Homo sapiens: one gene and its partners. The protein of the gene in region 2 interacts with the protein of the main gene of each other region in a pairwise test. Each region holds a gene or a part of one and is shown on either strand. Other genes may lie near its edges.

Region 1 (3,500 bases), on a different chromosome or scaffold from region 2:
GAAAGCTGGGTGAGGGAAGAAGACTGGTGATCTTAACATAAATAGGTAAACACTCGGTTTTGAGTGTGGTACCCTGGTTTTCAACTGTATTCCCAGTGTGCATAGCCTTCTCCAGAAAGCAAGCTTCCAGCCTTCTGCAAGGATGAAGGAAAAGAGATCACAGAGTACAGACAGAGGGAAAGATATCTGGGTATCAAATTCCTAAAATTTCAACCAGTTCTCCCGTTTTGCCCCCCTGTCCCCTCTTCACCATGGGTCCCATGTTTTCCCAGCTTTGAGCTCTCAGGGAATTCTATAAACTGACTTGTTTCTGGGCTTTTCTATTACTTAGAGATCAGCTTTTTAAGTCTACTAAGTCAACGCCTTCTAAAATTTTGGTGTGGGTTTCTCTTCTCCCTTGTGGATTTATGGCTTTTTTAAAAAAGAATTCCCTTATTCTCATTTTAGTATATGTTTGGCAAGAGGCAGAGTTAAATGCTAGTAATATGCCACTTGTTTAACTGAAATCTTAGATAATTTAGCTTTTCAATAAATGTATTTATCTTCATAAATCAAACACGGTGTATCACAGACGAAACGTCAAAATGATGACAAAGTAGTTAAAAGACAAAATTGGAAGGCAAACCTAACAGAATAAAGAAATAAATGGTTGAAAGTTTGGGGGGAGCGGGTAACCTGTTTTTGCTATACAAATTTTGTTAAAAGCCAAATTTTCAAGAGAGAAAAATCAAAACCCCCTGACTTTGTACTTTTTGAGGAGTTAAAGAAACCAAGTGATTTATCCAAGACAAGTGGGCTTTTTAGTGGTGAAGATAAATTTCACATTTAAATCTGGTGAGTCCTTAACATATCATGGAGTAAAAACCAAAACCAAAGGAGACACAGGCTCTGAGAAAGGTGGGTATTTCTAGCAAAAGAAATGCTGTCAGCAGGAGGGCCGGAGGTGATCAAGTTCCAGCATTAAATTATGTACATAAAAACAGTAGTGCTTAAGCTCAAAGGCAGGGTCATCTATTTTTTGAGACAGAGACGGTCTCCCTCTGTCGCCCAGGCTGTAGTGCTGTGGCACAATCTCAGTTCACTGCAACCTCTACCTCCTAGAATCAAGCGATCCTCCTACCTCAGCCTCCCAAGTAGCTAGGACTACAGGTACACGACACCATGCCTGGCTAAATTTTTTTTTTTTTTTTTTTTTAGTAGAGATGAGGTTTTGTCATGTTGCCCAGGCTGGTCTCAGACTCCTGTGGTCAAGCAATCCTCCTGCTTCAGTCTCCCAAAGGGCTGGGATTACAGGCAGGAGCCACTGCGCTCGGCCAAAGACAGGGTAACATAAACTTTACCCTAAATCCACTGTGCATGCAGAAAGGGGTTGACTGACGAATCCTTGTTTTTCTGAGACTCGACATGCAGACAGTTTGATGCTAGAGGAGCTCCCTTTCCTAGGCTTTGTCATATTTCTTTCCCATTCACTGACTGACCTTCCTTGTTTTCAGCCCTCTATTTGCACTGGTACCCTTTAACTCAGTAGTTCTCCGCTATGGTATTAGTTGTCAGGAGTGTCCACACTTAAGTACCTTAAGTTCATGAGTCATTTTTTAAGCAAACAAAAAAGAGTAGTTATAGCACTTACTTTCTTTTGAGCATGAATAGAGAAGAAAAGGACAGAAGTATAGCAAAGAAATTAAAAATCTCTTAGTATTAGAGGTACTAAAAAAATCTAGATATTAGCAAGGGAGAATGGAGTATATGTCAGTATCATCCATGAGTGTCCCAGTAGAAAAACAACTTACTAATCTAACCAATTTCACTTTTGCTGATTCCATTCATCTCTACCTTCAGATTTCTTTTTATTTTCTTCACTACCAAAACCACTCCTGTGCTACTCTTTGACCAACAATTTTATTATGATTATTATTGCAACGTCAATTAAAGCAGGAGCAAGTCTTAGAACTCCTTCCACAATACCTTACCAACAATTAGACCTATAAAATTTAAAAGGTTGGGAGAATACTCAATAGCAGTGCACCTGTAAGGTCTCAGCTGTGCTAATCATAGGAAAATGAATAATTTCTGGAGAACAACTCTTATTTTTTCAAGCATTTTTAAATATAACAGCTTACATACTAAAGCTATATAAATCTTTAGTTACTTAAATGTCTAAAATTACTACTCTATGTATCACTCAGACATTCAATAGAAATGATAAAGTCAAATACAGGCTTTCCTTCTTGACTTCTTGGCAGCTGGAAGAATAATCCATTGCTATACTCTAATACAGACCATATACCTACTCTTCTTCCTGATGCCTAGTGATTCTGTAGCAGGTCATGATCTAACAGTTTGCTCTCAGTTCATGGAACGGCAGCAATGATATGATGCTCAGTCTTTGGTCTGTCTAAATGTGCCCATTCTTCAAAACTCAGCATTACTCCACCCTTTCCCATCATCTCTCTTTGATTTTCTGGTCTGAAGTCCTCCGGGTTGTACACTTCCCATTTATTATCCCTTTGTCTTAGTAATTCATTTGGAGATAACATAAAAGAACTGAGATAAGATATAGGGTTCTATATCACGATATATAGAACTTTATCCAGCAAATGTTCAGGTACTATTTTTTTTGGCATATTGGTTTAGGATTTAGACATTGTGTAGCTTCTGTTAAAGTAAAGCAGAGAAGGTTAAGGAAATTTTTCTGGGAGATTTTTAAAACCTTTTTACCTTTGGAATTTTAACCTTACTCAGATGGGTTCATAAGGCAATGTTTTATTTCTGGAAGATAGCTACATACATTTCACAGAATGTTACTAGGACAGTAGAATTTAGCTTCTCTACAGGCAGGACTTTTCCACTTCTGAATTTCAATGTGGCAGTTAATTTGGTTTTTTTGTTTGGTAAACAGGTTCTTTGCTGTGTCACCCAGGCAGCCTCGAACTCCTGGCCTCAAGCGAACCTCCTGCCTCAGCCTCCCAAAGTGCTAGGACTTATAGGCATCAAGCACAGCATCTGGCCCCTAAGGGTCCTATCAGGTGAGAGGAAAAACACATACACATTCACAACAAAAGGATGAGGGACCACCAGACTCTAAGACCGTCACACAGTGGACAGTCAGCAATACTACAGTATGCAACACAGCTCTCAACTCCAGGAAACACAATTCATTTTGTGTTGTATGTGAACAGCATCCCCTGGAGTTGTGCAAAGCAGTGATCCTGGTACACAAAGTTAACAAGGTGAGATGTTCCACTAAAGGGAGTTTTGTGAAATGAGAGGACAAAACACTAGCCACATTTAGATTCAGCCCTTATTAGCACCTTGAAGTACCAGAGAAGTTCCAAACTGCATAAACCAGCATATCCTGGAGTTTGGTTGTGCCTCTTTCCCCCAGGAAATCCCTATTAATATTTTTTGGAACCAGCATTCTAAAACACAATTTAGAAAACACTGAGCTACTTTATAAAAGGCCTTCAGAGTCAAGTTGTATTTTGATAAAGAGAAAAATA
Region 2 (3,393 bases):
ACTATGTTGCCCAGGCTGTTCTCAAACTCCTGGCCTTAAGATTCTCCTGCCTCAGCCTCCCAAAGTGGTGAGATACAAGTGTGAGCCACTGAGCCCAGCCTCAAATGAAAGTACTTTAGATGAAAACAGAAATGTACTATTAGAGGATTACACAAAATGCTTATAGGGGCTTTTCTTTGTGTAATGAGATTATTGGGATTTCTATTGTCTGGTTTAGTTTGGTTTTATGGGTTTTTTTCTTACAGTGAGTATTTTTGTATCGGGGAGTTGTAAGGAGTTGTGGGATGCATGTGGAGCATCGATTTCTAGGAATATAAAGAAGACTAACAATATTTCAATTTATTTTTACAAACTGTCCACACTCATTAGTCCCCAGCTATTCTTTTTATTTTACTTATTATTTTTTTTTTTTTTAGAGATGGGGTCTTGCTATGTTGACTAAGCTGGTCTCGAACTCCTGGCTTCAAGTGATCCTCCCATCTTGGCCTCCCAAAGTGCTGGAATTACAGGTGTGAGACATCACGCCCAGCTCTAGCTATTCTTATCACATGACCAACAACAGTCCTTTGATTTATCAATTAGTAAAATTTGGTTTGGCTGGGCATGGTGGCTCATGCGTGTAATCTCAGCACTTTGGGAGGCTAAGGCAGGTGGATCACCTGAGGTCAGGAGTTTCAGACCAGCCTGGCTAACATGGCGAAACCCTGACTCTGTTAAAAATACAAAAATTAGCCAGGCGCAGGCGCCTGTAATCCCAGCTACTTGGGAGGCTGAGGCAGAAGAATCGCTTGAACCCCGGAAGTGGAGGTTGCAGTGATCCAAGATCATGCCACTGCACTTCAGCCTGGGTGACAGAGCGAGCCTCAGTCAAAAAAAAAAAAAAAAAATCAGTTTAGGAATGTGCAGTAATTCCTTTCTAAATTCTCAAGTGTGTAAAATAGCGATCCCCATCCTGACACCAGTTTTCTAATTTCTCACTTCATAATGGCCTTCTATCCCACTCTAGCCCTGAGCCAGGATCCTTCCTGGCCTATTCAATTCATCATACCCTATTCAGAGCTTGCCACAGGGAGATTCCAGGACCACAAGGGACATTCCCTTTTCACCCACAACGATAGCCTCAACAATGGCAGGGATTTTCCCTGCTCATGTGCTGGTTTCCTGGAGAATGTCCCATGGAGGCCAACTGGCAGGGAAACCGTCTGGCCTGGATAGGTGGCTGTACTGATGACAGACTTTCAAGCATGTAGCATGACAAGCTAACTTATTATCCCTCTCTTATATTATGAAGTTGACCTAAAAACCACAAAGAAATGAATGGCATGTCCTCCCTACATTCTGCCCCTAAGTATTCATGAACCTGCAGGAGTAAGTAAGGACAATATAAGGATACTGAATAATTTTACTCTAATTCTGGGGAAAAGTAGGCCTCACCAAGCAGAGAAGACAGGGCAATACTTGCACTGCCGTATACCAGGGGGATATTAAACCTACTCATGCTCTTATCTCATAATGTTATGCTTGGTCATCATTTTTCCACTAGAAGCTTTACACTAATGTTCCGCAGAATTTTTCACATCTTAATGCTTCCCTATTTGGGATGCTAGCCTGGGTGGAGTGTTGGGGGATGTAGAGATCAATATTTCACTTTTCACTTAGTGTAGTGGGTTGAAAGGTGGTGCCCCCAAAAGAGAAGTCTATGTCCTAATCGCCAGACTCTGTGAACATTATTTAGCAAAAATGTCTTTGCAGATAGAATTAAGGATCCTAAGATAAGAAGATCTCCCTGGGTTATCTAGGCGGGCCCTAAATCCAATGACAAGTGTCGTTTCTAAGATAAAGGCAGAGGCCTGGCGTGGTGTCTCACGCCTGTAATCCCAGCACTTTGGGAGGCTGAGGTGGGTGGATCACGAGGTCAGAAGTTCAAGACAAGCCTGGCCAACATAGTGAAACCCTGTCTCTACTAAAAATACAAAAATTAGCCGGGCGTGGTGGCAGGCGCCTGTAGTTCTAGCTACTTGGGAGGCTGAGGCAGGAGAATTGCTTGAACCTGGGAGGCGGAGGTTGCAGTGAGCCAAGATTGCGCCACTGCACTCCAGCCTGGGCGACAGAGTTAAAGTCTGTATCAAACAACAAAACAGAGAGAAAAGCAGAAAGAGATCTGCAACACGCAGAAAAGGAGAAGCCAGAGGAGTGAGTGACATGAGAATGGAGGCAGAGATTGGAGTCACATCAAGGAACAGGCCAAGAATGCCAAGAAATGCCAGCAGCCACTGCAAGCTGGAAAAGGCAAGGAATGGACTCTCCCTTAGAGCTTTTGGAGGGCTTGTGGCCCCAATTCCTTGATTTCAGACTTCTGGTCTCCAGAACTGACAGAATAAATGTGTTGTTTTACATCATCAGTTTATGGCAATTTGCTATGGTAGCCACAAGAAACTAATATGCTTAGGATAGTCCTATTTCTAGTGGTTCTATTTTTTTTATATAATTCTTCAAAAAGAACATATGTTGTTTTTAAATTTAAAAAAAATTCCTACATATTACAGTGTTCTTCAAATATTTGACCATAACCCCTAAGAACCATATTCCACATACTAACCCAGTTCCCAATACACATATCCATGGTGGAAAAACGTTTCACAAAATAATAATTATTCTTATTACATAGGGTGCACTGATACTTTCTATTGTATTCTATTCCATTATTATAAAAAGCCAGTTATTATTCTTTAACACTGATTTCACAGGCCACTTAACTTAGAATGACAATGTATGTAACAATTAGAAAGTAACATACTGGAAATTAATTTGGTGTTGGATTCAGTGCTTGATTAGTGTTATAGACTGAGCAACTGGTGCAGTTATTGTGGAAATTATCCAACACCAAATTAATGGAAATGAAGGGGGCAAAGTGTTAAACAACACCACAAATGTAGTCAGTAAAATTGAGACTCTGGGAACTGCTACAGGATAAAGGACCTGTTTTTTACAAAATATAAATTATAAGGCAAAAAATAAGAAAGAGGGCCAGGCACAGTGCCTCATGCCTTCAATACCCAGCACTTTGAGAGGCCAAAGCAGGAGGATTGATTGAGACCAGGAGTTCAAGACCAGCCAGGGCAACATAGCACAATGCCATCTCTTCAAAAAAAAAAAAAAGAAGAAGAAGAAGAACAAAGGTAAAAAAAAGGTGTGGAGGTGAAATTTATAGAGTAGAAGATTTAAAAGACATATCAGTCATATAATGTGTGTACCTTGTTTCAATCCTGATTCAAACAAACCATAAAAATAACTTGTTTTTTTTTTTGAGATGGAGTCTTACTCTGTCGCCCAGGCTGGAGTGCAGTGGTGCGATCTTGGTTCACTGCAACCTCCGTCTCCCAGGTTCAAGCA
Region 3 (3,211 bases), on a different chromosome or scaffold from region 2:
GAGTGCAATGGTGCGATCTTGGCTCGGCACGATCTCGGCTCAGCACGATCTCAGCTTACTGCAACCTCCGCCTTTCGGGTTCAAGCGATTCTCCTGCCTCAGCCTCCCAAGTAGCTGGCATTACAGGCATGTGCCACCACGCCTGGCTAATTTTGTATTTTTTGTAGAGATGGGGTTTCTCCTTGTTGGTCAGGCTGGTCTTGAACTCCCAACATCAGGTGATCCGCCCACTTCACCCACCCAAAGTGCTGGGATTACAGGTGTGAGCCACCACGCCCAGTGGTGTATGGGTTCTTTTATATGAAATGTCTAGAACAGGCAAAGCCATAGAGACAGAAAGTAAATTTGTAGTTGGGTAGTGGGCTAAGAGGTAGAGGGTTTCTTTTTGGGGTAATGAGAATGTTCTGGAATTAAATGATGATTGCACAACTCAATATACTAAAAACCAGTGGATTATATACTAAAAAGCGTGAATTTTTTCTGGCGTTTGACTTACATTGCAATAAAACTGTTATAAAAATAGTAAAATTAGGTCACTCCTAATCTCAGGCACTCCCTGCTTAAAATGTATCAGTGGTTTCCTATTATATTTCATATAAAATTCAGATTCCTTATCATGACCTTCAAGACCCTATGCAACCGACCCCTGCCTTCCTCTGATCTCTGCTTCACCCATGTGCTCCAGCCACACAAATCTTACTATTCATTAGAGATGCCACTTTGGTTTGGATGTTCTCATTCATGTCTTCCTTTCTAAAGTGTTTCTTCTCAGTACATATATATTTACTTTTTCCTTCTCATTCACTAGTATATTCCATAAGGGTAGGGATGCTGTCTCACTTACTATACTCCCAACATTTATGACAGATTCTGGCACATGATATCTACTTAATAAATTCTTTTTGAATTAATTAAAAATACTGTAGAGTTTTAGTTATTTTTAGTTATTGGGGTGAAAGGATCACTTGCAGCCAAGAGTTCAAGACCAGCCTGGGCATCATGGTGAGACCGCATCTTTAAAGAAATAAAAAACAGGCCAGGCGCAGTAGCTCACGCCTGTAGTCCCAACACTTTGGGAGGCTGAGGTGGGCGGATCACAAGGTCAGGAGTTCGAGACCAGCCTGGCCAATATGGTGAAACCCTGTCTCTACTAAAAATACAAAAATTAGCTGGGTGTGGTGGTGGGCGCCTGTAGTCCCAGCTACTTGGGAGGCTGGGGCAGGAGAATCACTTGAACCCGGGAGGCGGAGGTTGTAGTGAGCCGAGATCGTGCCACTGCACTCCAGCCTGGGCAAAAGAGCGAGACTCTGTCTCAATAAATAAATAAATAAATAAATAAATAGAAGGAAATAAAAAACAATTAGCCGGGCATGGAGGCATGCTCCTATAGTCCCAGCTACTTGGGAGGCTGAGGCAGGAGGATCACTTGAGCTCAGGAGTTCGAGGCTGTAGTGAGCTATGATCAGGCCACTGCACTCCAGCGTGGGCAACAGAGTAAGACTTTGTCTCTAAAGAAAAGTCACTAGAAATAGACTTACTGACATACACACGCAAAAGGCTATACAGAATCCCCTAAAGAAGCAAACAGTGACAGTGGAGTGGCAAATGGAGACATTGCATTTGAACTTGACAGATTGTTTTTTTGCAGCCAAGTTATCTGTATAGTCTTCTAATTTCACTGTGGTTTTTTATTGATGTTATGATTTTTTCTTTTTCTTTAGGGGCCTTGGACAAGTTGTTACTGACTATGTTCATGGGGATGCCTTGCAGAAAGCTGCCAAGGCAGGGCTTTTGGCACTTTCAGCTTTAACCTTTGCTGGGCTTTGCTATTTCAACTATCACGATGTGGGCATCTGCAAAGCTGTTGCCATGCTGTGGAAGCTCTGACCTTTTTGACTTCATACTTTGAAGAATTGATGTATGCCTCTTTGCCTCTGCTTTGTCATGCCATTAAGCTCACAATAAGGAAGAAATAACAGATAAGTCCATTGGTGGACAGCCTTCTTCTCTTAATCACAAGATTATTTTCAGAATTTAATCTTTGAGGAAAAGGTTTGAGAGGAATTATATCTAAGTTGTGAGACTGAGTTCTATATTCTGGTGAGTTAATGGGGTTGCCTCCCAGCTTCTTATAAGACTCACAGTATAACTAAACATGATATATCAGCTTTTGCCTTTCAATTTATCAATCTCTTAAAGAGAATCCAACTTTATTACGATTAGTATATGATCAAACTTCCATATTTGCCTTGGGAATAATGGACAAAGGGAAATACTCTTAATTCATGAATAAAAACTTTGCAGAAAATTAGACAGTGTTTAATTTTCGAAAACTTCCCTCTCTAGACAGTAGATACCACCTACTGATGGTTACATATACTAGGGAAATTTTAAAATTAGGAAATGCTGATAGCTCATATTATAAATTTCTAAATCCTAGGAAGAAACGCTTGGAGTGCTTCTGAATATACAGAAGTTCCATTTAAGGGCAAGTTTCCCTGTAGATGTATCAAAATACTACCAACTGTAAATTGAGATTTAATTCCCAAATGTATTCTACTTGTTCTAAAACAATCTGTCCACAAATATAAAACTATAAGTAATAAATTGTTATTTTCGCACAATGGGAATCTCTAATGTGAAAATGTATTCTATGAAAATAATTTTTTTAAATAAAATGTTATATAATAAAAGTGTCTTCTATGCTTTTATATATTAGCTATCAGTAGTTTTATTCATTAGAATTAGGTGTCCATTGCATCCACAGCATGAAAACAAAATTGGGTTTTTTTTTTTTTTTGAGACGGAGTCGCACTCTGTCACCCAGGTTGGAGTGCAGTGGCGTGATCTCGGAGCACTGCAAGCTCCGCCTCCCAGGTTCATGTCATTCTCCTGCCTCAGCCCCCCGAGTAACTGGGATTACAGGCACCCACCACCACGCCCAGCTAATATTTTGTATTTTCAGTGGACATGGGGTTTCACCGTGTTAGCAAGGATGGTCTCGAACTGCTGACCTCGTGATCCACCCATCTTGGCCTCCCAGAGTGCTGGGATTACAGGCATGAGCCACCCCGCCCAGCCAAAATTGAGTGTTTAAATTTTCTTCTGGGGCTTAGCAGTTAGGTAAATCAGACACAAAGTACTGGAAAACAAAAAGGACTTGTAATAGGCAGAAAAATACCAAGTGTATAAGTAATTTGGTATAAACAGA
Region 4 (3,500 bases), on a different chromosome or scaffold from region 2:
AGGCTGGGCAAAGAGTGGGTGCTTATCAATAACTGGAGAATGAATCAGTGAAAACACCTGGGAAGGTGCGGTCCTCTTCTTTTAGGAGGAAAACACTCGCAGAGCACCTCTGTGACCTAGGGACAGTGGTGACCTAGAGAGTCTTTTGCTGTCCTCCTGGGGTTTAACAGCCCGGTGGGGGAGAAAGATTCATCTCTAGACAGTGACTGTCCAGAACGGGGCAGGAATGCAGGAGCCCTGAGAGGCACCTGGTCCAGTCTAGGGTTCGGGGCAACTTCCTGGAGAAGGGGGCATTGAAGCTGAGACCTAAAACATAGCAAGTTGGTGGCACAAAGGAGGAAGTGAGAGAAGCAGCAGGTGCAGAAACAGAAGATTAGAGGCACAGTCTGATTCTGATGACTGTCCACTGTTCCCTGGGGCTGGAGCCAGGATGCAAGGAGGTGGCTATTGGGGACAACAACAGAAGGAGTCTTATGGCAGGTGCCAGATTCTTCAAGGCTGGGGCTTAGCTGAAAGAGCCTTCCCTGGGCAAACCATTCCTGAGGCCCCCTCTGTGGCCAACCCTGCCCTCCAAGGGCCCCTGGTCCAGCAGGTGGGACAGACACAGAAAAACACAACCAGACTATCAGCTGCTACCATAAGCCACGGCCACAAGACATGTCTGTGACAGCACACAGCACACTAATCCTGAGGCCAAAACTATGACCAGCTCCATCCGGCTGCTGAGCAAAGGGAGGCTCAGAGAGGTGAAGCCACTTGTCTGGTCACTCAGGAAGGACCGCAGAAGCAGAATGACAGAAGGGAAGGGGGGCAGGCAAGGGAGCCAGGCACGGCTTCCCAGAGGAGGACTCTTCACTCAGACACAGAAGGTCACAATCAGAGACTCTCTGAATGCCAGGTTTGGAAGGGGATGTTCTGCTCACCCTTCACGCACCCTGCTAGCTCCCCAGTCCTGTTCTCATTCACCCCTCCTCCCAGCTGTCCCCTCAGCCATCAGCCTTCAAGAGGCAGGACCAGGGCTATCACAGTCACAGTTAGCTCAAGAGCACCAGTGGCACAGAGCAAGGCTGTGATAAACACCTGTGTGGCCACCGCTGCCTGAAGGACTCACCCCGGACGCTCAGGTCACCCAAACCCACTTCCCTCTGAGGCTCCAGTGTCTGGCCCTCTCCTCCACAGCCCCTAGTCCACTCCTCTGCAATGTTTTCTCCATTCACCTTACCCACCAGATAGCAAATGTCCCAGGAGCATGGTTAGAGGGGCTACATGTGTTAAATGTGTCACTTGTCACCTCCTGTCCCCTTCACCAGCAAGAGCTCTTTCCTGTAATCTCCCAAAGCACAGGACACCATTGGAGGGGCTCCAGGGTCAAACAGACCTCAGCTATAGTCCTGGTCCCACCGTTCTTGGCTGTGACACCTTGGGCACATCACTTCACCTCTCTGACCTGTGGACCAGGTTGTGAAAATACTGGAACATTTTAGACAGAAATCTGGGCCCTGCTTACCCAGAGCTGGGGATCTAGAAGGAAACACACTAGAACGGTAAACAGGATAATTAAAAATGGTACATGGAAAACAAGCAGGGGGAAGTGACAGCAACTGAGTTGGGAACAGGGATCCACTTTGGAGTGGGTGGTCAGAGAGGCCTCCCTGAGGAGCTCCCTTTGACGTCTGGGTCGTCTGGGTGAGACCCTTAGGCTGAGACAGAGAAAGCCACATTCTGATGAGGAGATCTATGGGGCGGGGGTCGGCTGGGGAAGGGAAATCAGACAGGCACAAGGCCCCCTCCTCAAGGCCAGCCTAGCTATTGGGAAATTTAGGGGTCCAAGTATGGGTTTCAATGGGTCTGAGCTGATTTGGGGTCAGGAAAGGACACTTGATGCCAGGTCAGGATTTGAAGCTGCATCTGACTGACTCCCAGGTCTCTTCGCTTACCCGTTAGTGATGGGCAATCTGGCTGGGAACCTTCCCACGGAAAGGCAAGTTAAAACCACAATGAGGTGTCACTTCACACCTATTAGGATGGCTATCAGCAGAAAGACAATCACAAGTGCTGGCAGGGATGTGGAAAAACAGGAACCCTCGTATGCTGCTAGGGGGGAAAGTAAAAGTACAGCTACTTCGGAAAATATGGCAGTTATTGAACAAGTCATATGTGCACCTACTACACAATCCAGCAAACCCATCCTGAATGGCTACCCAGGAGGCAGAAAACATGAAGCCAGACCAGGCGCAGTGGCTCACGCCTATAATCCCAGAACTTCAGGAGGCCAAGGCAGGAAGACTGCTTGAGCCCAGGAGTTCAAGACCAGCCTGGGCAACACAGCAAGACCTCATCTCTATAAAAATACAAAAATTAGCCAGGTGTGGTAGTGCATGCCTGTGGTCCCAGCTACTCAGGAGGCTGAGACGGGAGGATCAATTGAGCCTTGGAGAATGAGGCTACAGTGAACCAGGATCACACCACTGCACTCCAGCCTAGGCGACAGAGCATGACTCTGTCTCAAAAACAAACAGTGGCCAGGTGTGGTGGCTCATGCCTATAATCCTAGCACTTTGGGAGGCCAAGGCAGGAGGATCCATTGAGCCCAGGAGTTCGAGACCAGCCTGAGCAACACAGGGAGACCCTGTCTCTCTTACTTAGAAAAAAAAAAAAAGAAACAAAATACAGCCACAGAAAAGCCTGTACATGAATGTTCATAGCAGCATTATTGGCAACAGACAAAAACTAAAAACAATCCAAATATCCTTCAAGGACTGAAAGAATAAACTGTGTCATGTCTGCAGACTACCACTGAGCAGTGAAAAGGAACAACTGTGAGCACGTACTTTAGGATTTCCCCAAAGGCCAAATTTCCCTGATCCTAGGTTGTAAAAAATAAAATAAAAATGAACAACTGCAGATCTATGTAACAACATGAACCTCAAACCCATTATGCCCAATGAAAGAAGCTGGACACAAAAGACTGGATGTTGTTTAGATCCTTGTTTAAGACATTTTTAGAAAATTACAGAGATAGCACCTCTGTGGCTGCCTAGGATTGGGAGCAGCAGAGACTGTAAAAGGGAACTTTTTGAGGGGACAGAAGCTTTCTCAGACCAGACTGTGGTGATGGCTGCACCACACAACTGCATAAATGGACCAGGAGCCAATGGACTCTATCCTAAGAACAGGTGAACGTTATACCATCTAAATTATACCACAAGGCTGGACGTGGTGGCTCACGCCTGAAATCCCAGCACTTTGGGAGGCCGAGGTGGGCAGATCACCTGAGGTCAGGAGTTCAAGACCAGCCTGGCCAACCTGGTGAAACCCTGTCTCTACTAAAAATACAAAAATTAGCTGGGTGTGGTGGCAGGTGCTTGTAATCCCAGCTACTTGAGAGGCTGAGGTAGAAGAATTGCCTGAACCCAGGAGACGGAGGTTGCAGTGAGCCGAGATTGTGGTGAGAAAGCGAGACTCCGTCTCAGAAAAAAGAAAAAAAAAAAAAGAGTCAC

The links. Proteins that work in one complex are often made in the same cells at the same time.
Region 1: the proteins of F2RL1 (region 2) and ATP2B1 interact in a two-hybrid assay, tested with the Homo sapiens proteins (one large-scale study listed by BioGRID and IntAct).
Region 3: the proteins of F2RL1 (region 2) and SDHD interact in a two-hybrid assay, tested with the Homo sapiens proteins (one large-scale study listed by BioGRID and IntAct).
Region 4: the proteins of F2RL1 (region 2) and CLPTM1 interact in a two-hybrid assay, tested with the Homo sapiens proteins (one large-scale study listed by BioGRID and IntAct).

Annotation. Positions count from the first base shown.
Region 1 is NC_000012.12:89,698,839-89,702,338, forward strand, and holds part of ATP2B1 (plasma membrane calcium-transporting ATPase 1), read right to left. Parts: intron 1-3,500. UniProt on the Homo sapiens protein: Catalyzes the hydrolysis of ATP coupled with the transport of calcium from the cytoplasm to the extracellular space thereby maintaining intracellular calcium homeostasis.
Region 2 is NC_000005.10:76,829,030-76,832,422, reverse strand, and holds part of F2RL1 (proteinase-activated receptor 2 preproprotein), read right to left. Parts: intron 1-3,393. UniProt on the Homo sapiens protein: Receptor for trypsin and trypsin-like enzymes coupled to G proteins.
Region 3 is NC_000011.10:112,093,084-112,096,294, forward strand, and holds the end of SDHD (succinate dehydrogenase [ubiquinone] cytochrome b small subunit, mitochondrial isoform a precursor), read left to right. Parts: coding exon of another isoform or gene 1-114; exon of another isoform or gene 115-126; intron 127-1,721; coding exon 1,722-1,887; 3' UTR 1,888-2,711; downstream 2,712-3,211. UniProt on the Homo sapiens protein: Membrane-anchoring subunit of succinate dehydrogenase (SDH) that is involved in complex II of the mitochondrial electron transport chain and is responsible for transferring electrons from succinate to ubiquinone (coenzyme Q).
Region 4 is NC_000019.10:44,958,380-44,961,879, reverse strand, and holds part of CLPTM1 (putative lipid scramblase CLPTM1), read right to left. Parts: intron 1-3,500. UniProt on the Homo sapiens protein: Involved in GABAergic but not glutamatergic transmission. Binds and traps GABAA receptors in the endoplasmic reticulum (ER).